4 linked regions of the Homo sapiens genome follow. The protein of the gene in region 1 interacts with the protein of each later gene in a biochemical or structural test. Each region holds a gene or a part of one and is shown on either strand. Other genes may lie near its edges. The genes, in order: MAPK14, RB1, DUSP10 and MBP.

Region 1 (3,960 bases):
TACTTATGTCTGGTCTGATTTTATGCACAGCCCCTCACATAGGAGTTTTGCATGGAGAGTTGAGGTTTTCAGAGTCATTGCATTTACAACATCTCTCTGAGCTTTTACAGTTTTACAATTAGTAGAACTGGGGCAAAGAGAATTTATGTCTTATCAGTTAACTTAGAACTAGTTAGGGACATAGCCAGGAATGGAACCCATGTATCCTGTGTCCAGTCCCATATTCTTTCCACAAAACACAAGTTCAGAACTCTAGTTAAATCCCAAGAGCCAAGACCATCTGTTGCTGTAGCTTGTGAGAGTGCTCTTTCATTCTTGAGCACCTCCGTAGAGAGCTTAAAAGAAGAGGCACTCAGCGATGAAAAACATGAGAAAAAAAATGGTTCTTTTCTATGTCCCTTGAACTTCTGTGTGATAACGTGTTCCAGTAGGCTATTACATACAAGCTGTGAGGTAGCCCATCAAACCACTACCTGGACAGAGAGGAAGGATCTTGAGCTTAGAAGTCAGAGTGCTTGCCAGCAAAGAGAATAGCCTAAACTCTCACATCTTACTTTTCCTTCCCAATTTCTAGGCCTGACCTATGATGAAGTCATCAGCTTTGTGCCACCACCCCTTGACCAAGAAGAGATGGAGTCCTGAGCACCTGGTTTCTGTTCTGTTGATCCCACTTCACTGTGAGGGGAAGGCCTTTTCACGGGAACTCTCCAAATATTATTCAAGTGCCTCTTGTTGCAGAGATTTCCTCCATGGTGGAAGGGGGTGTGCGTGCGTGTGCGTGCGTGTTAGTGTGTGTGCATGTGTGTGTCTGTCTTTGTGGGAGGGTAAGACAATATGAACAAACTATGATCACAGTGACTTTACAGGAGGTTGTGGATGCTCCAGGGCAGCCTCCACCTTGCTCTTCTTTCTGAGAGTTGGCTCAGGCAGACAAGAGCTGCTGTCCTTTTAGGAATATGTTCAATGCAAAGTAAAAAAATATGAATTGTCCCCAATCCCGGTCATGCTTTTGCCACTTTGGCTTCTCCTGTGACCCCACCTTGACGGTGGGGCGTAGACTTGACAACATCCCACAGTGGCACGGAGAGAAGGCCCATACCTTCTGGTTGCTTCAGACCTGACACCGTCCCTCAGTGATACGTACAGCCAAAAAGGACCAACTGGCTTCTGTGCACTAGCCTGTGATTAACTTGCTTAGTATGGTTCTCAGATCTTGACAGTATATTTGAAACTGTAAATATGTTTGTGCCTTAAAAGGAGAGAAGAAAGTGTAGATAGTTAAAAGACTGCAGCTGCTGAAGTTCTGAGCCGGGCAAGTCGAGAGGGCTGTTGGACAGCTGCTTGTGGGCCCGGAGTAATCAGGCAGCCTTCATAGGCGGTCATGTGTGCATGTGAGCACATGCGTATATGTGCGTCTCTCTTTCTCCCTCACCCCCAGGTGTTGCCATTTCTCTGCTTACCCTTCACCTTTGGTGCAGAGGTTTCTTGAATATCTGCCCCAGTAGTCAGAAGCAGGTTCTTGATGTCATGTACTTCCTGTGTACTCTTTATTTCTAGCAGAGTGAGGATGTGTTTTGCACGTCTTGCTATTTGAGCATGCACAGCTGCTTGTCCTGCTCTCTTCAGGAGGCCCTGGTGTCAGGCAGGTTTGCCAGTGAAGACTTCTTGGGTAGTTTAGATCCCATGTCACCTCAGCTGATATTATGGCAAGTGATATCACCTCTCTTCAGCCCCTAGTGCTATTCTGTGTTGAACACAATTGATACTTCAGGTGCTTTTGATGTGAAAATCATGAAAAGAGGAACAGGTGGATGTATAGCATTTTTATTCATGCCATCTGTTTTCAACCAACTATTTTTGAGGAATTATCATGGGAAAAGACCAGGGCTTTTCCCAGGAATATCCCAAACTTCGGAAACAAGTTATTCTCTTCACTCCCAATAACTAATGCTAAGAAATGCTGAAAATCAAAGTAAAAAATTAAAGCCCATAAGGCCAGAAACTCCTTTTGCTGTCTTTCTCTAAATATGATTACTTTAAAATAAAAAAGTAACAAGGTGTCTTTTCCACTCCTATGGAAAAGGGTCTTCTTGGCAGCTTAACATTGACTTCTTGGTTTGGGGAGAAATAAATTTTGTTTCAGAATTTTGTATATTGTAGGAATCCTTTGAGAATGTGATTCCTTTTGATGGGGAGAAAGGGCAAATTATTTTAATATTTTGTATTTTCAACTTTATAAAGATAAAATATCCTCAGGGGTGGAGAAGTGTCGTTTTCATAACTTGCTGAATTTCAGGCATTTTGTTCTACATGAGGACTCATATATTTAAGCCTTTTGTGTAATAAGAAAGTATAAAGTCACTTCCAGTGTTGGCTGTGTGACAGAATCTTGTATTTGGGCCAAGGTGTTTCCATTTCTCAATCAGTGCAGTGATACATGTACTCCAGAGGGACAGGGTGGACCCCCTGAGTCAACTGGAGCAAGAAGGAAGGAGGCAGACTGATGGCGATTCCCTCTCACCCGGGACTCTCCCCCTTTCAAGGAAAGTGAACCTTTAAAGTAAAGGCCTCATCTCCTTTATTGCAGTTCAAATCCTCACCATCCACAGCAAGATGAATTTTATCAGCCATGTTTGGTTGTAAATGCTCGTGTGATTTCCTACAGAAATACTGCTCTGAATATTTTGTAATAAAGGTCTTTGCACATGTGACCACATACGTGTTAGGAGGCTGCATGCTCTGGAAGCCTGGACTCTAAGCTGGAGCTCTTGGAAGAGCTCTTCGGTTTCTGAGCATAATGCTCCCATCTCCTGATTTCTCTGAACAGAAAACAAAAGAGAGAATGAGGGAAATTGCTATTTTATTTGTATTCATGAACTTGGCTGTAATCAGTTATGCCGTATAGGATGTCAGACAATACCACTGGTTAAAATAAAGCCTATTTTTCAAATTTAGTGAGTTTCTCAAGTTTATTATATTTTTCTCTTGTTTTTATTTAATGCACAATATGGCATTATATCAATATCCTTTAAACTGTGACCTGGCATACTTGTCTGACAGATCTTAATACTACTCCTAACATTTAGAAAATGTTGATAAAGCTTCTTAGTTGTACATTTTTTGGTGAAGAGTATCCAGGTCTTTGCTGTGGATGGGTAAAGCAAAGAGCAAATGAACGAAGTATTAAGCATTGGGGCCTGTCTTATCTACACTCGAGTGTAAGAGTGGCCGAAATGACAGGGCTCAGCAGACTGTGGCCTGAGGGCCAAATCTGGCCCACCACCTGTTTGGTGTAGCCTGCTAAGAATGGCTTTTACATTTTTAAATGGTTGGGAAAGAAAAAAAAAGAAGTAGTAGATTTTGTAGCATGTGATGTAAGTAATGTAAAACTTAAATTCCAGTATCCATAAATAAAGTTTTATGAGAACAGAGCCGCACTCATCTGTTTATGTATTGTCTGTGGCTGCTTTTGTGCTACAGTGACAGAGGCAAATAGTTGCAGCAGAGACTATAGGACCTCCAAAATGTCAACCATTTACCATCTGGCCCTTTAGAGAAGTCTGCTGACCCTTGGCCCAGGGCTACAGTTTTCTCATCTATAAAGTGAAGTTCAGGTTTTTTTCATCTTTGACATTTGAGACTATCTATAAGCCATATATTTTTATTATAAAACTGCCAGAGAGAAGGTTTGGTTTGTATATATAGGTGTACATTGTTTGTAAGCTTTTAGGCGAATGTATTTTATGACTCTGTTTTGTCTTAGCTGGCTACGGTCCTTGAAAATATTCTTCAGAATGACTGAATTGCATCACGGGATGAAAGAGCCACGGGGTCTCACAGCTGAGTTCTCAGGGACTTTGCTGATGTGCTTCCTTTCTTGGTGTCCTTGGAATGACACCCAGCAGGTGTCCCAGGGTGGATTGTGGGGCTCAGCCTGTGAGGATATTGAGAGCTGGGTTT
Region 2 (7,031 bases), on another chromosome or scaffold:
TAAGAAATCTCAATACACGATCTCTGAAGTTCCTAAAATTCTGGCACTAATTCTAATGTGAACTTAGTAGCAAAAGACCCAGAAATAGTAAGCCCTTGACCTAAAAACTAACTGATTTGTATGATATTCATGCAGAAACAATGATGAAATGGAGTCAAGTTTTCTAGTGTCATTGTTATCAAAATAACTGTCAAAATAGTAAGTTTGAAACTTAAATGAGCACAAAATAAAATTTTGTTTTCTAACAAGACCAGATTTCTTTTTAAAAATAATTCTGAGTTAGACAAAGTGATTTTCCTAAAAGCTAGCTGAAGCTACCTTAAATATCCCCTATTTTAAGTTACAGCATCTCTAAATAAGTTAATCACACAAGATAGTTTAAATACACCTTTAGGTGTAGGGGAGGGGAGAAGCGCCTCTTTTTCTAATGCAGCTGTTTTAATTTGAAGCTTTTGCACAAAATCAGATAGAAACATTAATGCCTAACCCATAATGACCCTTGATTACTTGTAATTTTGGACTAGAAATAATGTGGCTTTGAACATGCCAGTGTTAGACCATACTGACTTAAAAAAATAAAAGATAAATAGACAATTGCCAGTTCAAAAGATACATGGAAGACATGTACCATTCCAGAGAAAACACAAACCTTCCCAAATTAAGGAGGGCAGAATAATTTTGAGATGCAATTAGACAAATCTCTATGAAAAAAAAATTAAGGCTCCTATAATTAACAGTCTGTTTATGGAGTAAAATTAATTTGTATCTTAATTCTTCAGGACCCAGAAACATTAGAAAGTGCACTTGGGATATACTGTGTTAGGGTCCTCTATACCTAAGATCTGGCAGAACACTTTACTTTTTCAAGTACTAGATGGGTACTTTATAAATTCAGTGATCTGAATGGTATAAAAACCAAGAGTACTATCAATAATCCTCATTTAAAAACATAAGTTGGATGAAGAAAATAATCAGTAAGTTCTTTTACATTCTGAGGTATGAAATCTGTTTCAGTAGTATGATAGTATCATATGGTTATACTTTGCTTCCAGCTTTTATTTAATTAAAAGCAAAATTTTATAAAACAAGCACACAGTATATCAGATTCCAATAGTAAAATAAAATCTAATGTGTAAAATTAGTAATTTTTTTCTAATTTCTAATAATATCCATTTTTGCAGAAGAGTTCAGGATAATTTTGGTGAATGGGCAGTCAATCAAATTGCATTTGGAAGATAGATAGGACACATTTTCTAAGGGTGTTCATGTTAAATTAAAAAAATATACATATAAATTAATAAAAACAAGAGCAAACATCACCTATATGCTACAAAAGAAGGCAAAGTAGTCAGACAGGCCTGGGTTATCAGGACTCCCACTCTAGGGCCATTCTTACTATCCATAAAGCACAGCAATTTTACTTTGGAAGAGGAAACAATCTGCTACAACTTTTTAAATGGCAGGATTTACACAAGATTTTCAATCTTGTATAAATAACAATGACTAACATTTCAAGTGGCTTAGGAATCACCCAAACAATTGCATCTGCACATTTTATATCCACAAAAAGAGCTGAAGATATTAAATGTGGCCATAAACAGAACCTGGGAAAGTTATACAGTCACATCTGTGAGAGACAATGAATCCAGAGGTGTACACAGTGTCCACCAAGGTCCTGAGATCCTCATTTCTCTTCCTTGTTTGAGGTATCCATGCTATCATTCATTTTCTGCTTTTGCATTCGTGTTCGAGTAGAAGCTGGAAAAAGGATGAAGAACTGTTAACAGCATTGATGGTACTGGGTAAGTTGGCAAGTGGCTGCCATATATATTATGCTCATGTCAAACTGATGGCGCTCAGGACCTTGCAAAAGCAGTGGTCTTCATTCTAGTATTTGACAGTACCGTAGGGAGTTACAGTTAATTTACTGCATATTTCAAAATAGCTAGAATTGTAATGTTCCCAATGCAAAGAAAAATGTTTGAGGTGATATATATCCCAATAACCCTGATTTGATCATTACACATTGTGTACACGTATCAAAACATCACATGTACCCCTAAAATATGTATAACTATGATATATCAATTAAAAAAAAAATTCCCTCCCCACCCCCCAAAAAAACAGTGGTCTCCAAATCTTTAAAAATCATATATCCCTGTGAGTAAATTTTTTTCCAAGCCTGTACCACAAAAATACGTATGTATGTACAAATTATAAAACACATACCCCAAGCAAACATTAAAATGAGATAAATAGAACTTCTACTTTATGTACCCCAAAAGATGACTTTGCATACTTCAGGTATGCCCCATTTTGTAGGCCACTATTCTAGAGATGAGGTGGTTGATGCTTGGCATATACTTCAGCAGACTAGAATACTCGGCTGGCCCAGACTGAATCTGCCAGAGTGAGTGGTGGTATTCTTTACAAAGCTATAGGTTCCCTTATGTTTGCAGATGCCTTGCAGGTACTGCAAATACATCAAATCATAGCTCATTTAAACTGGGCATGGATTTTTTTTTTTTGAGACAAGGTCTTGCTCTGTTGCCCAAGCTGGAGTGCAGTGGCATGATCATGGCTCACTACAGCTTTGACCTTCTGGGCTCAAGCAATTCTCTCACCTCAGCCTCTCCAGTAGCCAAGACTACAGGCACATGCCACCAGGCCTGGCTAATTTTTGGATTTTTTTGTAAAGATGGGGTCTTGCTATGTTGCCCAGGCTGGTCTTGAACTCCTGGCCTCAAGCAATCCTCTCACCTTGCCCTCCCATAGTGCTGGTATTACAGACATAAGCCATCATGCCTACCCGGGGCATGGCCATGTTAAAAGCATATTATGAATTACAATATAGACAAAGCCGGGATACTTATTAAATTTCTTAAAAATTCTTAACTTGATTTTAGAGGTAGGCATGAGTTCTTTATAAAGAAGCACATTTGGAAAAATGGAATGCCCTTCCATTCTGGGCAATCCAGCATTGTATGATGATCTTTTCTAAATGTAATTCTTTAAGAAAAGCTGAAGAGCATCCTAAAGAAATGCCTTAGCCTCAGGGGTTAAAATTCTGCCTGCTTTGTCACAATTTTGTAGATGCACAAAGGTCCTGAACTTTGGCCTGGCAGAGGAAGCTCGCCATCATAGCTAAGTGTGTCACTGGGAAATGTACTAACTATAGCAACTGAACACTTCTCTAAGAAAATATACATGTTTTTACAGCTTTCAGCTCCTTTTTAAGTGCATATTTGTGGGTTCCAAAATGTTTCCATATGTCTTCAAGGCCTGATTTTGGTTATGAGCCTCTTGTCTATTTTCATGTACTGAGGGGAAAAGATGCAACTATTTAAGAGTTAAAATAGGAATATGTAAGTTGACATAAAATCCAAAAAGAGATTCATTTATAACTAGAAAATTTTGTTTTAGTTATTTAGTTTTAATTACACTTTAAAAAAATACATAGAAAAAAAGCATCCTTTTAAATATCTTATTTTCAAAGTTAGTATCTACAAAGATGTATTAAAAGAAAGCCTCTCATTTTAATTGGTATTGTTCTCATTAGTGTGTCCTGTGACCTAGGAATGATTGTTTTAACACCTATCTCCTGAATATTTGTCTTCTTTCAAAATCCCAGTTCCTTTTCCTATCAATGGATCTGGCAGCAGATACTGGGAAATGTTACACTCACTACCATAACTACCTAAGACAACCCAATAGTAGTTAGTGAACATTTATCTCTTTCCTAATGTGCTTTCCATCTACTATCCTTGGATTATTTTTTTTGTCTAGTCTCAGAGTAGTTTTGAATAGAATTCCACTTACCCTAACATGATATCACTCTGTATAACTTGGAAAATGACATAAGTGTTCTTTATTAAAATTCTGATTTCCAGTAATGGAAACTTTTGTTTGAAATTGTTTTAAGATTTGCAAATAAGGAAAGTTTAAAAATGGTAGAATCAAAGGTTATTCCTTAAATAAGGGTGATGATGTTTACATATGCTAGGTTTATAAAACTTTTCCCTATATCTAACACTCCCAAATAGCTCCTCTTTGTAGTTCTGCTAAAGTATTTTCTAACTGTAGCCATTTGTGTTGAATGTGGTCAAGCAATGTTTCACTTCTTAGTCTTCCTGCATGAAAGATCATAGAAAGGGTAAAAATGACCTTCATTTTACATCATACATTTAATCCACAAATGTTTGTAGATAAATAACCTTGATTGAATTATATTTTAAATGCATAAACAAACCTGCCAACTGAAGAAATTATACATTCTTTTATATAACGAAAAGACTTCTTGCAGTGTAAACAATTGTTTATTTCATTTACACAAGGTGAAAAAAGTACTTACTCATTTCTGCCAGTTTCTGCTGAAATTTGGACTCTCCTGGGAGATGTTTACTGCAGATTAAAAAAATGCAAAACATTTCATGTGTATTTATAAATGGAAAACTCAAATTTCCAGTAACTATGATGCTTTCGATGACTTACTTTATGCTATTATTTTAGTGAGTAGCTTTTAATTTTAAAATTTAAAAACTAACCATCTAAAACATAAATGTCACAAATTTATGATGCTATGTATTTTTTCAGTGGTTCTCACAAAATACAGTGGTTAATATTTTTCAAGAGTAAACATTTTTAAATTTAATGTTAAGAATAACAAAATTTTATCAATAGCTTTGTAAAAAAGATCAGGGTTTATTAGATATCTTCACTGAATGTTGGTATGCAATTTGTAAGATGTTTTTAACTTTGCACTACACTCATATCTATTATTTTGAGCCATTCTCACAACTTCCAAATAAACTTGGCATGAAAGAAATTGGTATAAGCCAGGAGCAGTGCTGAGACTCTGGATTCCCCAGATGACCATCTCGGCTACTGGAAAACATTCAAAACTGGTTCCTACCTTCCATCTGCTTCATCTGATCCTTCAATATCAAAGCGTAGTTTTTTCAGTGGTTTAGGAGGGTTGCTTCCTTCAGCACTTCTTTTGAGCACACGGTCGCTGTTACATACCATCTGATTTATTTTCTGGAACTTCTCAGAAGTCTACAAATTACAGAATTCTTTACTTTAAATCATTAAATGCCAGTGTTTCATAGTTAGCAACCTCAAGTTATAGTTTGAGGTGTGTCAAAAATCAGGCAAAGGTAATAACTTCATTTAAATTTTCTGCTTCATTGGACCAAATAAAAGATATGAAAAATCTAAAAATCAGAATAACTACCTAATTCCATCCCCAATTAAACACCCACTCTTTGTAAATCCTCCTGTCTTTTCCCATGCAGCTCACATTCTTCCTCCAGCAACTGCCTACTCTGCAAGTCCTGGTTCCTCATTTTCAGAACCCACCATACAGGACTACTTTTCAGAAGTAGGCAAGTCAGAACAGCTTTCTGGAAACTTGCTTTTGTCCTTTTTTTGTTTTTTAGGCTATTATACAACCAGAAGGAAGGTCACAAGAATTTGATAAGAGATGATGTGTTCAATGAATAATAATTTTTGATTCACTTTATGGGTATTATGTTGACAAGTCATATAGACTTTCTGATAGAAATTATATCTGATTTGACGGATAGATTCAACAGTGAGGATTAGCTTTGCCAATTATACTTTATTTTCCAAAAATTAAACTAGCGAATTCTCCCAATATTAAATTCAAAACAGGTTTTGATGGTAAATCTATTTGGAGCACATATACAATTTAACAAAAACTAAATCCCGTGCTGCTATTAAATGTATAATATTTTAAATTATCAGCTTTAAGATATGGAAGTACATTCAACTTTTTCCCAATTATTTTAGAGGTTATGGCAAGCAAAAATGTTTGAAGACCACTATGTGATACCTAGCCAGTTCCAACTGTCCTTATAAGGTCCCATAGCTCCTTTGTAAAGTCTGACAGCTGAGCCCATCGTGAACTATTTGTAACACACATTTTAATATTTGGTCATCTGGCATATAAACTTTTACCTCTCCCTAGTTACTTGAGGCAGTGTGGTGGGCAGCCTCTCAGATGGCTCCCAATGACCCCACCTCCTGGTATTCACCTCCTTGTGTGATCCTCCTCCCCTCGTGTGTGGGCTAGATCTACTGTTGTCTTGCTTCTAACCAAAATAATATGCCAAAAGTAATGGGCTGTCATTTCCAGAATTAGATTACAATAAGACTGTGACCTCTCTCTTGCTCTTTATTTCCCTGCCTCCCTCAGAGTCCCTGCTCTGGGCAAAGCAAGCTGCCATGTTGTGAATAGCAAGCAGTACTATGGAGGGGCCCAAGGGCAAGAAACCAATAGAGGGGCCAATAGCCATCGAGGATCAGCCAACAGCCATTTGAATAAGTCTGCCAGTGAATGCTCCTCTAGTGGAGCCTTGAGATGACTGCAGGCCCAGCCCAACTGACACCTTGATCACAGACTTTGGAGAAACTCTGGCCCAGCTAAGTCATGCCTAGATTATTGACCCACAGAAATGGAGATAATAAGCGTTTGTTTTAAGTCACTAAGTTTGGGGGTAATGTATTATGTAGCAACACATAACATAGGCAGTCTTCCCATTCCTATAAGAATATAAGCTCTCTGGCCAGGTGCAGTGGCTCACATCTGTAATCCCAGTTCTTTGGGAGGCTGAGACGGGGTATCGTGGAAGCCAGGAGTTCAATACCAATCTGGCCAACATAGAAAACCCTGTCTCTACAAAAAATTTAAAAATTAGCTGGACATGGTGGTGCATGCCTGTAGTCCTGGCAACTTGGGAGGCTAAGGTGAGAGGACTGCTTGGGCCGAGGAGTTTGAGGTTATAATAAGTAGGTGACAGAGTGAGACACTGTCTCTAAAAATAAAAATTTAAAAATTAAAAATATAAGCTCTCAGGGGAATGGAGATGGTGCAACATATTAACAGTAATGCATATTGAATATGGGACTGCTGAATTAGTGACTTTAATGGAAGGCCAACTAGGGTTGTGGATTTGCAGCCTAGAATAAATGTTTCAAAGCAAAGCTTTCCCTTGGATCTCCTAGAATGA
Region 3 (7,693 bases), on another chromosome or scaffold:
AGATCCTCTTGAAAGAGTCCTTGCCTTCCCTACAGGAAATCAAGTCTAGGACAGTGATCTTGCCCTGCTGCAGTCTCCGCCGGCTGATCTTATCGGCACAGTTAATGTGGACAGCTCCTTGGATGTGACTCTTGTTGTACTCCATGAAGGGCCTGCAGTCAATGATGACAGGGCCCTGACTCGGCAGGTGACTCTTGCTGCATTTGGTCATCTTCTTTGCCAAGTCATTGGGGTAGATTATTTTGATGCTGGCTAGCTGCTTGGGGGTCCCTGACACAGGGCTGCCCACCCCACTTGATGGACTTAGAGAGCCTGTATTCTCATTATTGTTGACCATCTGGTTAGCAGGGCAGGTGGTAGAGGTTCCGATGGCAGTGGTGGTGGTGCCAGCGGCAATGGCTTGGGTTTGGGCCTGATTGTCCTTGTCGTAGGTTGCCACAGTGCAGCAGCTGGCACTGCTGCATCCACAATTCAGCGAGCGGGCAGAGCCGCTGGATGAGGGCATATACGTCAGATTCGCAGCCTTGAGGGACACAACGGTGGTGGCGATGACAGGAGGGTGGCTGTTACTGCCTGGGTTGGCAGAGCCAAGGTAACTAGAGTCTAAACAAAGGTTGAGATCCTGAGGTCGGACGGGCCTAGATAGTGCCACTACTACCCTGTCGTCTAAAGGAGACGGAGGCATGAGGAGGCTGAAAACTGGCAATTCAAGAAGAACTCAAGACAGTCTGTAAAGAAGGGGAAGGGGGAAAGAAAGAATAAAGTCACGTGACACAAAAGGCAGTCTCATCCAATCCCTGGGAAAGACCTTTGCATCCCTCTGAGCAAAGTCGTCCTAATTGCCCTTTATCATACCATTATCAAAACTTGAAATTCATTTTTATGTATTCAAAGAGGATGCAAACCTGAGGGCTCCAATCAATTTGGTTGCTAAGTCTAAGGTTAAATTTGGATGTAATGTTGTAAATGTTAATGAACAACCTTTCCTGGACCTACATAAAAGTTCAGCTGTAGAGAAGGTATAAGCACAAATAATTAGAAAAGCTGAAGACAGAAGGGAGGCTCTTAAGAGGCATCTATTCTGAACCTCAGCTCTCGGGCAGAAGTACACTGCAAACATCTGAGAAAGACCCATTTGTCCACCCTTGCATGCTTGCCATTTAATTCCCTCACTCGCTGCAAAGGCAAAGGGGTAACCAAGAGCACTGGCATGGTTCACAGAAAGGTACAGCAGCTAAATATACATCAGGGTGGATGTCAACTTTCTGCAAATCCCCTTAAGTGAATCTCTTTAACTTGGAGCTATTCTTGCCTTCCATTCTCTATTGGGGTCCTTTGAAAAGCACAACATAGTCATACTAAAACCTCACATGTTGTCTTTTGGCCTCTTATAAATTAATCTGCATTTCCCCTTTTCACTACTAACTGGTGTCCTAAAACGAAATCTCAAGCCATGGAGCCAGATCTGGAAACCTGGAAACCCCAGCCCCGGCAAATCCCTCACCCTTTGCTCTCTCACCTGCCCCCGCCCTCATTCCTGCCTGGAAAGGACAACTTGGGCTCTCCTCCCCTCTTCATCTCCCTGGCTGGCACAGACTGTGCATCCTAGAGCTTCTCTCAATGGGAGGCAGCCACGTTGTATAAGGTTTCAATCCCATACAGATATCCCCCCTTCAAGAGTACTGATTCCGTAAAGAGGACCTCCCAATTAGCCTGTACTCGTTGAAAGGGACAGTGAATTGTTGCCCACCGGATCTATCTCTGATTTCAGAGTGTCTGCAAAAAGACAGCTCCTTCCTCCTGTAGGCACAGGGGCACTCTACAACTCAGGCTTGCTAACTCTTCTTCTTCTATTAGACATGCACATAGCAAAGACGCCAAACCCCACGCCAAGAGACGCTCACCTAAACGAACTTTAAGAGCTATCAGGAAAAATGCCATCTATCATCCGTCTACACACGACCGTCACCATTCTCATCCGTCTACACACGACCGTCACCATTCTCTGACACAGAACCAAAGTGTCACAGGCGGAATCCACACTCACGCGCGCACACGGGGCACGCACCCATCACGTCGGCAGATCTCCAACGACTCGGGTTTCTCTCACCCACCTTTGGATGGGAGCGAAGGAGTCAACCCCCCTTCCCTTGCGTAGTATTTTTTCTGAAGAGCGAGTTCTATTCCAGAAGCTATAACTGTTTCCCGGTTGGACCAAGCGGTGAAAGTCTTTGCTATTGTGTTACCTGGTAGGACACGTCCAGGATCAACATACCATTTCTTCTGAGAGGGACGCATAAGCGTGTTCACAGAGACACGCGCTGGGACCCCCACCTCCACACAGAGTTCAAGGCTCACACACACACACACGGAGTGTATAGAGAGACCTGCATCCCTGCAGCAGAGGGTCGGGCGTACATACTGCCCGTGAAACCATCCAGTCTGGCCCAGAAAATCTCCCAGAGAAATACTGAGCTATCCCCTCTCCCTTCCACCACTAGGCAAGAGCTGGAGAGAAAATTAAGTGGTTAGAGAATGCTTCTTCCCCATTCCTGGAGCACTTAACATCCCCCCGCCCCCCGCTTCACTCCTCGGCACACAGCGCACTAATGAGCCCCGAGCATTTAAAACTGCCGCAAAGCATCCCAACAAACCTCATTTTTTCTTCGCCCCAAATCCAAGTAGACTGCAGGGAGTAAACGCACAGGGTAGCAGGAGCCAACGGCCGGAACCTTATAACCCTACCTGCTGTAGCTCCTCCGTCAGCATCGCATCTCTATCTTTCTGTCTCTGTCTCTCTCTCACACACACACAGATACACACACACAAACACACACACTCACACTCACACAAGCACCGCCTTACAATCCTCCACCTCCAGTCCCGGGCTCTCAGGAGTAGTCGCGGTGACTTCCACTTACTTCATAAATAAGTGTATTCCTCCACCATCTGGCGCTCCTCTTCAGCTATGGACTCGCACATTCAGCCCCCATTCACTCGGCTTCATTGATCTCCAGCAGCAACATAGTTACTTTCTCTTTTGCTACACTGTAAATGTAAGGTTCTGAGGGGGCGGACTCGCCGCCGACCGACGGCGGGTTGGGCCAATAAGAATCCGGAGAAAGCCGACCGCTACCTCACAGAGCCCCGCGACCAATGGGCAGCCTAGGGGGCGGGTAAGAAGGCGTGGCCTCATCTCTTTAAGGAGGGTTTATCCGAAGCTGCTCTGGGTCCTCGGTGTTAAAACACGGGCGGTGATGTCATTGGCAACCAATCAAAAACTTAAAAGAGCCAGCCGGGGCCGCGCGGAGCAGCTGCTCTCTATTTACATGTAAACCGAACCGGCAGGATGCAGTTAACCCTTTACCAGGCTGAAGTGTCAGCGGGCTGGACGCGCTGCTCCGCTAAAACTGGCTCTTCCCACTGGACGGGATCCTCCAACACTCCCTCACCCGGGGACAAACCACGCTATTTTTCCTCCTTACTATGGACAGATGATCAAAAGTATCGGAGTAACTTTCTAAAGGAAAGAGACTGCGATCACCGTCCCTAGTGGGAAAGCCGGGTTCTCTCCGAGTCGCTCGAGGTGACTTGACAAACGCTAAGCCAAAATTCGCGGACCTCGCCGGGTCTTCTGCGCTAGGACCAGCATGAGCGCGCAGCCAGGGGCGACGCTTCCGCTCCGAGCCGCGGCCCGGGGCCACGCGCTAAGGGCCCGAACTTGGCAGCTGACCGTCCCGGACAGGGAGGCCCTTCAGCCTCGACGCGGCCTGCGTCCTCCGGAGGGCCCTGCTCCGCCCGGGAAGCGTCCGCCTCCCGCCCGCCCGCCCGCAGATGTCGCTGCCCCTCTGGCTGTCCCGGCCTGACCGCCGCGCGCCGCCCTGCTGCTCACCTACTTCCGCGCCACGGTCACGCCCCTGCCGTCCCCAGGCTAACCCTCCCGGGGCTCGACCCAGAGCACTAAGGCGGCGCCACTGAGGGCTGCTCGGAGGAGGAGGCTTGAGTCGACGCCAGAGGCGGCAAGGGACGCGCCCTGAGCAGCGGTGCAGAGGCCAATCCCCTGGCCGGGCGTCCTGGGGCCCGCTACGCGCCCGCTGCCCCTCCGGGTCTGGGTCCCCGCCCGCCGCCGCCCCCCTTTCCCGCCTGGCGCGCTGGGTCCCCGCGCCGTGCCAGCAGCGCGCAACCCACCCGCCCCACATGCCTCGGCCGCCACCCCTCGGTCCCGCACGGCCCCTGCCGAGGCCAGGACCGGCAGCCCGGCGCTTCTGGAACAGCCGCAGCTGGCGGAAAAGAGCCAGAGCCGAGTGCAAATAGCTAGATTGAATGGGGCCGGAGGAGCGTGGAGGAGGTGACGCCGCCTCTCCCCGCTCCCCTGACTTTGGCCGGCGCCAGGTAGCTGGCCGCAGCTCCTGATCAGGGAGAAGAGTAGGGGGCGGGGCAAGCCGCCCCTTGCCTAGTCCGGAAAATATTCTCATTAGGGAAACTGCAGGAAAGTTGCCCTGGGATACAAAAAGAAGTGGAGATGAACAACCCCAGATGAACTGTGGAGAGTCTACGTCCAAGAACCCTAAAGAAGTAGAGCTTTTTCTTTTCTTATCTGTGAGAGAAGGGATAAAAAGTGAAATAATGGAATAATACATTATGAGCACTAGGGAATGTTGGGCTATCGTTTTTCTCCCTTACCTGATTGGATGGGGTTTGGAGGTCTACTTCAGACTCCAAGCCTAGTAGTATACTGAGTAGCAGGGGCATATTCATGTAATTGTTTTCAGGGCAGATCTGAAATCAGGAGGTGTCAGACCATAGCTAGCAAGTCAGCTATGCTCAATGAGCTGTGAAGAGAAATCCCCTTGGGCACCTCCACTTACATGCAGGCACATACCCCCCAGTCCAGCTTTTCACACCAGTGTTACGACGGGCATCACGTACACATCCGATAGTCTTACATAGGAGAGGATTTTGTGTAACGTCTGTTGTCGAAAATAGTCAAACTCTGTAAAATATTTGAAGAGATTTATTCTGAGCCAAATATGAGTGACCATGGCCTGTGACACAGCCCTCAGGAGGTCCTGAGCACGTGCCCAAGGTGGTTGGGGTCCAGCTTGGTTTTATACATTTTAGGGAGGCATGAGACATCAATCAAATACATTTAAGAAATACATTGGTTTGGTCCAAAAAGGCTGGACAACTCTAAGGAGCGGGTGGGCTTTCAGGCTATAGGTAAATTTAAACATTTTCTGGTTGACAATTGGTTGAGTTTGTCTAAAGACCTGAGATCAAAGAAAGGAACGTATGGGTTAAGATAAGAGCTTGTGGGGACCAAAGTTTTATTATGCAGATGAAGTCTCCAGGCAGCAGGTTCAGAGACAATAGGTTGTAAAATGTTTCTTATCAGACTTGAACTCCATGTTGATATATAACAGGGCTCATCCCACCCTCACTTCCCCTCATGGCCTGAACCAGTCTTTCAGGATAAATTTTACAGGAGCCTGGGTTGAGAAATTAGTCCGTTGGTTGATATATAATGAATGGGGCACGTCCCACCCTCACATCCCTTCATGGCCTGAACCAGTCTTTCAGGATAAATTTTACAAGAGCCCTGGTTGACAAATTAGTCCGTTCAGAGGGTTGCCTGGGAAGGCGGGGTGGGCAGGGGGTGGGGCGTGGGGGGTGCTTAGAATTTTATTTTTGGTTTACACCTCTCTCCATCCACACACCAACACACACGTCAATTCACCCTCCTGATAATAGCAGAGTGCTTAGGGCACACCATTTGGTTCTTAAATGTTTGAAGATCAACAGGTTATGGTCAGGAAACTTGGGTTCTGGGTAATTTCTATACAAATCAGAAAAGAACTTCCCAGAGGTTCTACCCTTGATCTATCTGGAGCTGGAAGGCTGAAAGCTTACCTTTCCCTAAACATAGACAATTATGGGAAAATTTTTCATTAACTCAGAGTTTGAGAGTTCTAAGTTCTGATTCTGACTCTATCTGTTATATCTGTTCATCCAGTCTCTGTCTTCATTTATCCATAGAATGGTAATACCCCAACTCAGAAGAAAAAGGGAACTCATTCAAGCGCTCAGGGGGGAAAAAAGATCCCCTGCTGATAAAAGGCATTCAGTGGAAAAAAAAATTAATTTACTTGCTTTAGGAAATAAGGTGCCTATCTTTAAAGGTATATATGATCTATAAATGATGAATTCATTTCTAATGCCTCAACATCTAAGCCCAAAGTATAGATTTATACAATTGCAGAAGAGTTCTTAACAGCTTTTCCCACAAGGCCCAAAATGGAAAAGTAATTTCAAGAAGAAATGTAACTCTTGTAATGAGATGATTGTTTTATTATAGTTTCAAAGTAGTAGATTATTATAATTTAGTTGACTAAGAATCTAAGCCATCCAGGCTGAAACATTGGGAAAGATGGCAAAATTCCTTATCATATATCAAGCCTGAAATGTGGAATAATTACCAGATTATGAATATAAGCAAAGTTGTAGTTATTTTTTAAGTTAGGCATCTCTAAGTTTATATTCAAGTCATAAGACTGGTGAAAAAAATCAGATTATAGATGGAATTTTTTTCCATTCACTACTCTTCAGAACATCTTTTGGACAAGAAGAAGTGATTTTATTCCTGTTTTTGAGCGATAAATGTGAAAATACTACACTGAAATATAATGCCCTGAGACTTAAATTCGTAATGCTAGTCAGCCAATGGCTACAAATCTGATCTGTATATCAATAACCAGCAGCAGAGCGTTAATGTTAGTTTCAGTCCCAAAGAAAGAGTGAAGCATCTTCATTCAGTCTGGATGTTGTAACATGATTGTATTGAGCATATCTTTGTTCCCACAAACATCATAAGAAAAATATTGACTGTTTCAGCTGAAGTACTATGTATTAAAGTCAAAAGATGACAATAACTTAGGCCAACATATAAGATATAATATGGATAGTATTTAGCAAATGTATTAATTAAATTACTTCTTTTTTGTGCACTTAAATGGTTAAGTGTGTGGGGTAATGGCAGAAGGTGGGGCCTTCAAAATAATCCTCAAGGTCAAGATAGATTTCTGGAGGTACTAGAATTAAGGCAGAGAATGGCTTGGAGAAAACTTAAAAATCATCCAGGATAAAGATGATATTATACCAGAAGGAGTGGGGAATAAGCTGAGGAATAGGAAAGTGGCATGGTAAGTGTTTGAGGTCATTGAGACCAGCCTGGCAAAACATCCAGCAACACTCTCCAGGCCTAGGGAAGGGCTGATAAGAAGTGTTCCCTGAAGGAAGGAGCTGCTATGGTTTGAATGTTCCCCCAAAATACATGTTGAAACTTAATCACCAGTGTGACACTATTAAGAGATGAGGCCTTTTGGAGGTGGTTAAGTCATGAGGGCAGAGGCCTCATGGAAGGGATTAGGGCCATTACAAAAGGGCTTCAGGGAGTGAGTTAGTTTTCTTCCATTCCCCTGTGGGGACACAGCAACAAGGTGCTATCTTGAAATCAGAGATTGGACCCTCACCAGGCAGTGAACCTGCAGATGGCACCTTGATCTTGGACTTCCCAGCCTCCAGAACTCATGTGAGCAATAAATTTCTGTTCCTTACAACTTCCCCAGTCTCAGGTATTTTGTTATAGCGGCACAACTGGACTAAGACAGTGGCTACTGTAATGATGGAAACAGAG
Region 4 (7,782 bases), on another chromosome or scaffold:
TCCCAGCACTTTGGGAGGCCGAGGTGGGTGGATCACTTGAGGTCAGGAGTTTGAGACCAGCCTGGCCAACATGGTGAGGCCCCATCTTTACTAAAAAACAAAAACAAACAAAAAAACGCAAAAATCAGCCAGGTGTGGTGGTGCGCCCCTATAGTCCCAGCTACTGGGGAGGCTGAGGCAGGAGACTGTTTTGGATCCAGAAGGTGGAGGTTGCAGTGAGCCGAGATTGCACCACTGCACTCCAGCCTGGGTGACAGAGCAAGACTCTGTCAAAAAAAAAAAAAAGAAAAAGAAAAGGAGTAATTAGAATATTTTCTTTTCTTTTTTATTGACAACTAAGAAAGCTAAGGAGAAGATGATGAACAAAGACGGATGACAGTAGCCTTATGGTGAAATCATTCTTGAAAGGAAACCTGTGTGGGACATCTCTGGGTACACTCACTCATCATTGGGGTGGAATTTTAAAAGGAGGAACGAGGAGCACCTTTGCAAGGCATCCTTCTCACCACGGCGGTGCAGAGCAGCAGTCAGGCGCTGGTGCAGACTCCCCGGATGGAATCCCGCCTCTTCTTGTGTGCCCTTAGAGTAACTTAACCTCTCTGGGCCTTGTTTCCTCAACAGTAAAAAATGAAGATATGAATAGGATGGTGACATCCAGTGAGGGCATCCTAGGGCCGTCCCGACTGTTATCCGAGGTGACAAACCGCTCTCAAAAGAGAGTCTGGCAACGTGCAAGCAGTCGATAAACACTCCCAGGCGACAGAAAAGGCACAGAGGCAGCTGCTCATCTTAAGCATGTCATATTTTTAAAGAACTTGGAGGAGGATTAAAAGTCAAACAAAATAACTTACAATTAACATTTACAAATTCAGGCAGAAATAGAAACATCACAAGAAAGTTTGGTCTCTTGTTTTTTTTTTTTCTTTTTTCCCCAGCGTTTCGTGGCTACCTTTAATCAGCGCACACAGCTAGGACCACCACTGACCAAACTCAAACCCGACGTTTTAAATCATGGAGGAGCCATGAGCTACCAGGTGTAAAACAAGCGACGTGTCTTACACTTTCTTATCTTTGGGCAGAACTGTGATACTTCTGGAGGATTTTCAAAGAGGATTTGAACAAAATAGCTTTGTTTAACCCGGAGTTAGTAGAAGTGGTTGTTTCAGAACAGTTAACTCCCTGGGAGTTACTCCAGCATTTACAGCAATTTTTAACTGTGTTCTTTTCCCTCAGATTTCTGTTTTTCCCACAAAAAAAAAAAAAAAACAAAACCTCAAAAAACAAAACACACACACGCGCGCACGCACGCGCACACACACACACACACACACACACACACACACACCCCCTCTGCCGCGGTACCCTTCCCCTGGCCTTCCTCCACTGAAGGGCGGCTGGGTTCCAGGCTCTCAGCCGTGACCACAGCCCCGGCCCCAACCGCTAAGGAGGTGCTCATCACTGGAGGTGGCCGCCAGGGAGCTCAGTGCGGGACCTGCTCAATCCATACGGTCCCCTGACTTGAGGGTGACCGTCCTTAAACTGTCCCCCGGAGCTTCGCCAGATAAAATGTCCAAAACACACACTGGAGTTCCCTGACGTTTCCTTCCTCTGAAAAACTCTCTTTCCAGGCGGGGCGTTCTGTGGTCAGACGAGGCAGAGGCCTCCCCGGAACGAAGTCCACGCCCCCTCCCCACCCCAGCACCCAGCGAGCCCACGCGCCCCTCACCCACGCGCAGAGAAACCGAGCACTTGTTGATTCTCACGTTGTTGCAATTGGAAAACGGAACAAGGAACCAGAGCTCGCCTGTTTCCAGCCAGAGTCGCACGGGGGTCCCCAAAGACGCTTGAACCTTTTCCCAAGCCCCACTCCACCTTCCAAAACGGGGGGGCTCAGGTGGACGCGAAAGGACACAAGGCGCTGCCCCCAGCACCCCGGAAAATCTAGTGTGGCGGCAAATGACCGCAGGTCACACACCCCGGCCTCGGGGGCCACGGAAAACGGACGCACCCGGCCCAGGACAGGCAGTGGGGCCCAGGAGGGGACTGCCGGGAAGACCCGGGCGGGCCGGCGGGCGGCTGCGGGCGGCGCACGTGGGCCCAGGTGGGCGCAGCGACGGGCCCGGCCGAAGAGCCCGAGACAGGCCCTGCGAAGGCGGAAGCCCGGACCCGGGCTCTCCTGGCCGCCCCTGGAGCTCAGAGGGAGACTGCGCTTCGCCCCGGGGGCAGGGGCAGGAGCGCGATCGCGCGCGGGGCCCCCGGGGTGTGATTAGCAGGCGCCGCGAGCCGGGAGGACCCCCCAGCCCGCCCTGGCAGCCAGCACCCTCTCCACACCCGCCCAGAGTGGCCGCTTTTGACCGCCGTCCCCTCCCACCCTAGACTCCTCCCCTCAGCCCCACGGCCCGAGGCCGAGCGGTTTCAGCGACCCTGGGACCGCCGGGCCTGGCTGGAGTCCACCCCTGGACACCTGTCAGGGTCGGGCCCCGGCGCTGTAAACCCGCGTCTACACCCGCGCCCAGCCCCCGCGCAATGGGGATCGGGGGCGGCGACTTGGGTTCGGGTCAGGGAGGCCGCCGGCTGCTACCTGCTCGGCCACCTGCTCCGCTGCCTAGGTTCTCCCTGCGCGTCCCCAGCCAAGAAAGGGACCCGGAGTCCGGGCGTCGGGATAGCTCCTGTCCCCGATCTTGCGCCCCCGGCTCCCGCGGGGCTCCGGTCCGGGGTCCCGCCCAGGTCTCCGCGGTCCCCACTCGGAGGGGCACAGAGACAAAGGCGGCAGAGCAGCCCGCCCGTCCCCGAGGGTCACCCACCGGCGCTGCGCTCGTTGCTCCGAGGCCGAGGGGCGCCGCGGGGTCCAAGGCCCTGCTCCGCCTGCCCAGGCCCGGGCAGGCTGGTCTCGGCTTCAAGCGCCCACGCGCGGGGTCCCCGGGCAGCCTGCTTCGCCTTCCGGGGTCGGGAGACAGGGGCCGCCGGGGCCGGAGGCTGCTTCTCTCTGGCGCGCGGCGGCGGTGACTGACGGCGGCGGCTCCGAGGGACGGGCGCGCACCCAGCTCCCCGGCCCCGCCTCCCCGGGCTTCCTGCGAGCCAGGTAAACACAGGCCGATCCCGCCGGGCCCGCCCCACCTGGACGCGGCCGCCGGCGCCGCCCCGGGAGCTCGGAGGACCCCGGGCCCGCTCTGCCCACGCGGAACTTGGGGGGCGCACGGGGCCCACGCGCAGGGTCAGACCTCGGAGGGGCGGCCTGGAGCCTCGCCCGCTGCCGAACTGGGCTCCGAACTGCGGCCCGTCGACCCTTCCCGTTCGGAGGCTTGGCCTCCGAACCCACCCCGACCCCGACCTCGACCTCGCGGGAGGGGTGCCAGGCCGCATCTCCCCGCGTCCTCAGGGGCTGGAAACCCCAGAAACTGCCGATAGACTTGGCGCAGCCCCGGCCCTGCAGGAGGAGAGTCAGCCCGGCCTGGAGGCGAAAGGAGCCGGCAGGTCCTCCCAAGGCACTCCCTCCCTCCCCTGGAGCCCAGGCCAGGCCCATGTCCGGCTGGCAGGTGCTCCTCTGGGAGCTGGGAGCTGGGAGCTGGGAGCTAGGGGCGCACCTTCTCCTGCAGGACCGGCGCAGGAAGCGTGCGCGGAAAAGACAGCAAAACACGCGCAGGTGCGAGGAAGCAGCCTGGTCCTGCAGCCCAGAGACATCGTGGTCTTCGTCGCTGTCTTGTTAAAAAGAAAAAGCCTGCTGTTTAGCCGTGACTCACCTGCACACAGATTTAGTGGTCAGAGATCTTTCTCTGGATTCTCAGCCTCCTGATGGTGGAAGAGGAGGAGGTTGGGGGAGTCCCAGAATGAGGCCCCGCGTTCCTCCTGACCTACACCCCCAGTCAGGGATCTGGATCTGGAGCTTCCAGGGGACCTGGAGCAGCCTGGGACCCACACAGTTTGTTAGGAAGTGAGGGAGAGGGGTGAGCGCTGTCCCGGCCCGCGCTGGGAGGCGGGACTCAGACTTCAGCACGGGGTCGGGGTTTCGGCCTAAAACCAGCCTCCCCCAAAGCCCCGGAGGATTTAGCAACTGTCTTCAAATGCTGGCAACTGGAAGAGAAATACTTCCACAACGACGCAAAAGCATTCAGTCTGGTCGTTTCCTCAGGAGAGATTTTCAAGTGGAGGGGGCAGGAGGGTTCTGAGACTTTGAGGCTGAAGGTGAGGAGGGAAAAGGGTGCCAAAGATAGTGTGTTTCTCCAATTTTTCTGCCCCACAACCTCACTTTAAGTCAAGGATGAGCGGAGTGGGCGTGGGAGGCTGGACAGCTGCCCTAGGAGCACGGGTGGTGACAATGAACCCGGGTGCACCCAGGTCCCAGCTCAAGTCACTCAAAGCTCAGGCTGGGGAAGCTGGAACACTAAAATGGGTCCCATTTTAGATACCTGCTTTAGCATCAGAAACAGCTTTTCCTCCCCAAAATATCTCTTGGCTTTATCTCAGTGACTCCACAGGGCGGGGCCACCTTCCTGCCTGCAGATGTCCCTGTGTGCTGGGCTCTGGAGCGTCCCTCAGGCCACAGTGACAGCTGCACACGCGGCCTTCTGTTTGGTGCTCCTTCTGCTGGTGTTACAGTGGTTTCCTGAAACACTACATATGCCAACAGTCAGCCCTACAAATGTCAGGCTCCACAAGTTCCAGTTAAAAGTCTTTTTAAAGTATTTATGAAATTTCACCGTGCATATTTTGTTGGGATAGAGTGTCCACACAGATGGGCAGCCAGGCAGTTTAGAAAAGTCATGGATTCTTCAAAGAAAACATGTAGATAATACTATTTAATAAAACAGTGGATTCACATTTGGATCAACTGGTCTTATCTTGGGGGCTTTCATGCCCTCCCGGTTAGAAAAAGGACCCCAGGTTGAGGACAGTGGATGGAAGAAACAGAGGCTGGCATTTCACTGTCGAGAGACAAACTTTCACATGAAGATGTCCATGTAGCCCTCAGCAAAGTGACAGAGATTCGTTGTGCTGAATAAAATTGAAAGGCATCTTTTGACAAGTAACCCATCAAAGCCTCATTGTGTCTTTGACATTTCTAAGAAAATCACATTGCAGTTACCCCCATCTTTCACAAGGTACCGGAGAGCAGAAAGTTTGACCTATCCATCATCTCATATGGCAGCAAATAGCAAAATGTTTTGTGCATGAAATACACTCAATAAATTTTTGTTAAGCTGAATTAAACTCCAAATTACCCAAGCTAAAGGAAGTAAATGAATCTAAATAGTTTCCAACAGACCTCAGACTGCACGAACTTTGAGTTTTCTTTAGTTTCCTCATCAACAGATTTGTCTTTGTTATGATGTTTTGCTTAGGAAAGGACTGAACTTTTTTTTTTCTTTCTTTTTTTTTTTTAGATGGAGTCTTGCTCTGTGGCCCAGGCTGGAGTGCAATGGTGCAATCTCAGCTCACTGCAACCTCCGCCTCCCAGGTTCAGGCAATTCTCCTGCCTCAGCCTCCCGAGTAGCTGGGATTATAGGCAACCGCTACCATGCCCAGCTAATTTTTGTATTTTTAGTAGAGATGGGGTTTCACCACGTTGGCCAGGCTGTTCTCGAACCGCTGACCTCAGGTGATCCACCTGCCTGGGTCTCCCAAAGTCCTGGGATTACAGGCCTGAGCCACCACGCCCGGCCAGGACTGAATATGATTTTCAGACCTGGTCTAAACCTCTCTGAGCCTCAGTCTCTTCATCTGCAGTGTGGAGGTAATAGTCATCCTCATATCAGGGCTGAACACTCTCTTTCTGCAGCTCAGGCATCGGTGGATACCCAGGTGTGGAGGTCTCCCTCATTCATCCAGGGGTTGATCACAGTTGTTTCCAAACAAGTGGTACTTCAGAGGAATTCTGGGCTGGCTCTTCAGACGTTACATCTATTCGCTCTGTTGCAATATATATTCACAACCTCGCCAGTGGGGCTTACTTCCCACGTGAGGGTGTATTAGTCAGCTCAGCTGCTATAACAAAATACCACAGACTGGATGGCTTAAAAACAGATGTTATGCCAGCTCTGGAGCCTGGAAGTCCAAGATGCAGGTGCTGGCGGACTTGGCGTTGGGCGAGAGCTTGCTTCTTGATTCATAAACAGCACCTTCTCTATGTGTGTCGGGTGGTGGAGGGAGAGAAAGAGGAAGGGGAGGAGACTGGGCTGTGGCCTCTTTTTCTTATAAAGACACTAATCCCATTGTGAGGCCACCCTCACGGATTCAATCTAAGCCGAACTATCTTTCAAAGACCCCATGTCCAAATACCATTCCCTGGGGGTTGCGGCTTTGACATATGAATTTTGGGGGGATAGATGTGCAGTCCTTAATAGAGGGTTAGATTAAGACATAGGGAAAAAAAGGAATGAATACTCAGCTTCCAATCTAGTTAACAGAGTTCCCTGCGGGGGGTGGTGGAATGAGTGCCAGCCTCCCCAGGAGCTGGGAAGGAGCTGGACTGGGCAGGAATAGAGTGAGGGATAGGAGAGCCTTAGCCAGGTCTGTGGGGTGGGTGGGGGTTGTGTGTGTGCTGGACTTTGTGCTACATTTGATGCTCCTATAACAAGGGGATTAAATGTGACATCTTAATAACCAGCCCCAGGAAGCAGCCCGAGAGGACGGGAGGGTTGCCGGGAAGTCCAGAGCATGCACAGTGTGAATGTGCATGGGAGCCATGGCAGACCCCAGAGGGAGCCAGGAAAGGCTGTGAGGAGACAGCGGCCCTGTTGCAGGGGTGGGGTCAGCAGCCAGCTCTGAGGGAGGGAGACGGGCCCTGGAGGGAGGGGCTCAGAGGCAGGGTGAGTGGGAACCAGGAGGGCTTGGCCCTGGCTTTGGGGACCTCCCACTTCTGACCCAGACCTGCCTCCACGGTGCCCCTCCTGCCTCCACGTTCTTCCTGTACCAGGCTTCCTTTCTCTGGAGTTTGTCCTCAAAGGTGGAAAAACTGTGTTTCTACAGTGAAAGTTCACTGTTAAGGGTTGAACTGTGTCCCCGAAGAGAGAACTCGAAGTCCTGACCACCTAATACCTGGGAAAGTGACTGTGCTTTGAAATAGCCTTTGCTAGTGTCATCAGGTGGAGATGAGGTCCTTGGGGGGGTCCGGTGCGGTGGCCATGTCCTTGTAAGCAGAGGGGACACTCAGAGGGAAGAGGCCACATGGAGACAGAGGCAGAAGTGAGAGTCATACATCCCGGAGCTGAGGGATGCTGGGGGCAGCAGAAGCTGGGAGAGGCACGGAGGGACCCTCCCCTGCAGCCCCTGGCAGGAGCACAGCGCTGGCCACACCTGGATTTCATACTCCTGGCCTCCAGACTGAGAAGCTACATTTCTGTTGTGAAGCCTCCCAGATGGTGACTTTCTGTTACAGCAGGGCCAGGCAACGAGAGCCAATCCCTCCAGGGGGAAAAACGGGCGTCCGCGCGTTCACTCTACAAAGCCTTTAGTTAAAGTGGAAATCAAGCAACTTGGCCACAAAAGTCATGAGGTGTGGGAGGAAGGTGAGCAGAGGAGACTGAGGAGGACCACAGGGCAAGGCCTTGGGAGCCATTGTGGGGAGTGAGGTCAGGGGTCAGAAGTCAGGGCCTCTGCTGGTTCCCATCCATGGCTCCAACCACCCAAACCTCCTCTCTGAAGCTGTGCCCAGACAGCCCAGGGCAACACCTGGCCTCCTCTCCCCACCTGCAGGCTCCTAGCGCCCTCCAGGTTCACAAACCCCGGGGGACAGTGTCAGGCCACCCCACAGGAGAGACCCACCCCCTGCTGCCTGTGCCTGGT

The links.
Region 2: of the proteins of MAPK14 (region 1) and RB1, one has a biochemical effect on the other in vitro, tested with the Homo sapiens proteins (3 studies listed by BioGRID and IntAct).
Region 3: the proteins of MAPK14 (region 1) and DUSP10 form a complex in vitro, tested with the Homo sapiens proteins (2 studies listed by BioGRID, with this or other methods).
Region 4: of the proteins of MAPK14 (region 1) and MBP, one has a biochemical effect on the other in vitro, tested with the Homo sapiens proteins (4 studies listed by BioGRID).

Annotation. Positions count from the first base shown.
Region 1 is NC_000006.12:36,107,806-36,111,765, forward strand, and holds the end of MAPK14 (mitogen-activated protein kinase 14), read left to right. Parts: intron 1-574; coding exon 575-642; 3' UTR 643-3,431; downstream 3,432-3,960. UniProt on the Homo sapiens protein: Serine/threonine kinase which acts as an essential component of the MAP kinase signal transduction pathway.
Region 2 is NC_000013.11:48,474,725-48,481,755, reverse strand, and holds part of RB1 (retinoblastoma-associated protein), read right to left. Parts: intron 5,307-7,031; exon of another isoform or gene 5,234-5,306; intron 5,056-5,233; coding exon 4,913-5,055; intron 4,402-4,912; coding exon 4,352-4,401; intron 1,778-4,351; coding exon of another isoform or gene 1,759-1,777; coding exon 1,685-1,758; 3' UTR 1-1,684. UniProt on the Homo sapiens protein: Tumor suppressor that is a key regulator of the G1/S transition of the cell cycle. The hypophosphorylated form binds transcription regulators of the E2F family, preventing transcription of E2F-responsive genes.
Region 3 is NC_000001.11:221,739,060-221,746,752, forward strand, and holds the start of DUSP10 (dual specificity protein phosphatase 10), read right to left. Parts: upstream 3,031-7,693; 5' UTR 2,922-3,030; intron 729-2,921; 5' UTR 686-728; coding exon 1-685. UniProt on the Homo sapiens protein: Protein phosphatase involved in the inactivation of MAP kinases. Has a specificity for the MAPK11/MAPK12/MAPK13/MAPK14 subfamily. It preferably dephosphorylates p38.
Region 4 is NC_000018.10:77,129,776-77,137,557, forward strand, and holds the start of MBP (Golli-MBP), read right to left. Parts: upstream 3,009-7,782; 5' UTR 2,805-3,008; exon of another isoform or gene 1-2,804. UniProt on the Homo sapiens protein: The classic group of MBP isoforms (isoform 4-isoform 14) are with PLP the most abundant protein components of the myelin membrane in the CNS. They have a role in both its formation and stabilization.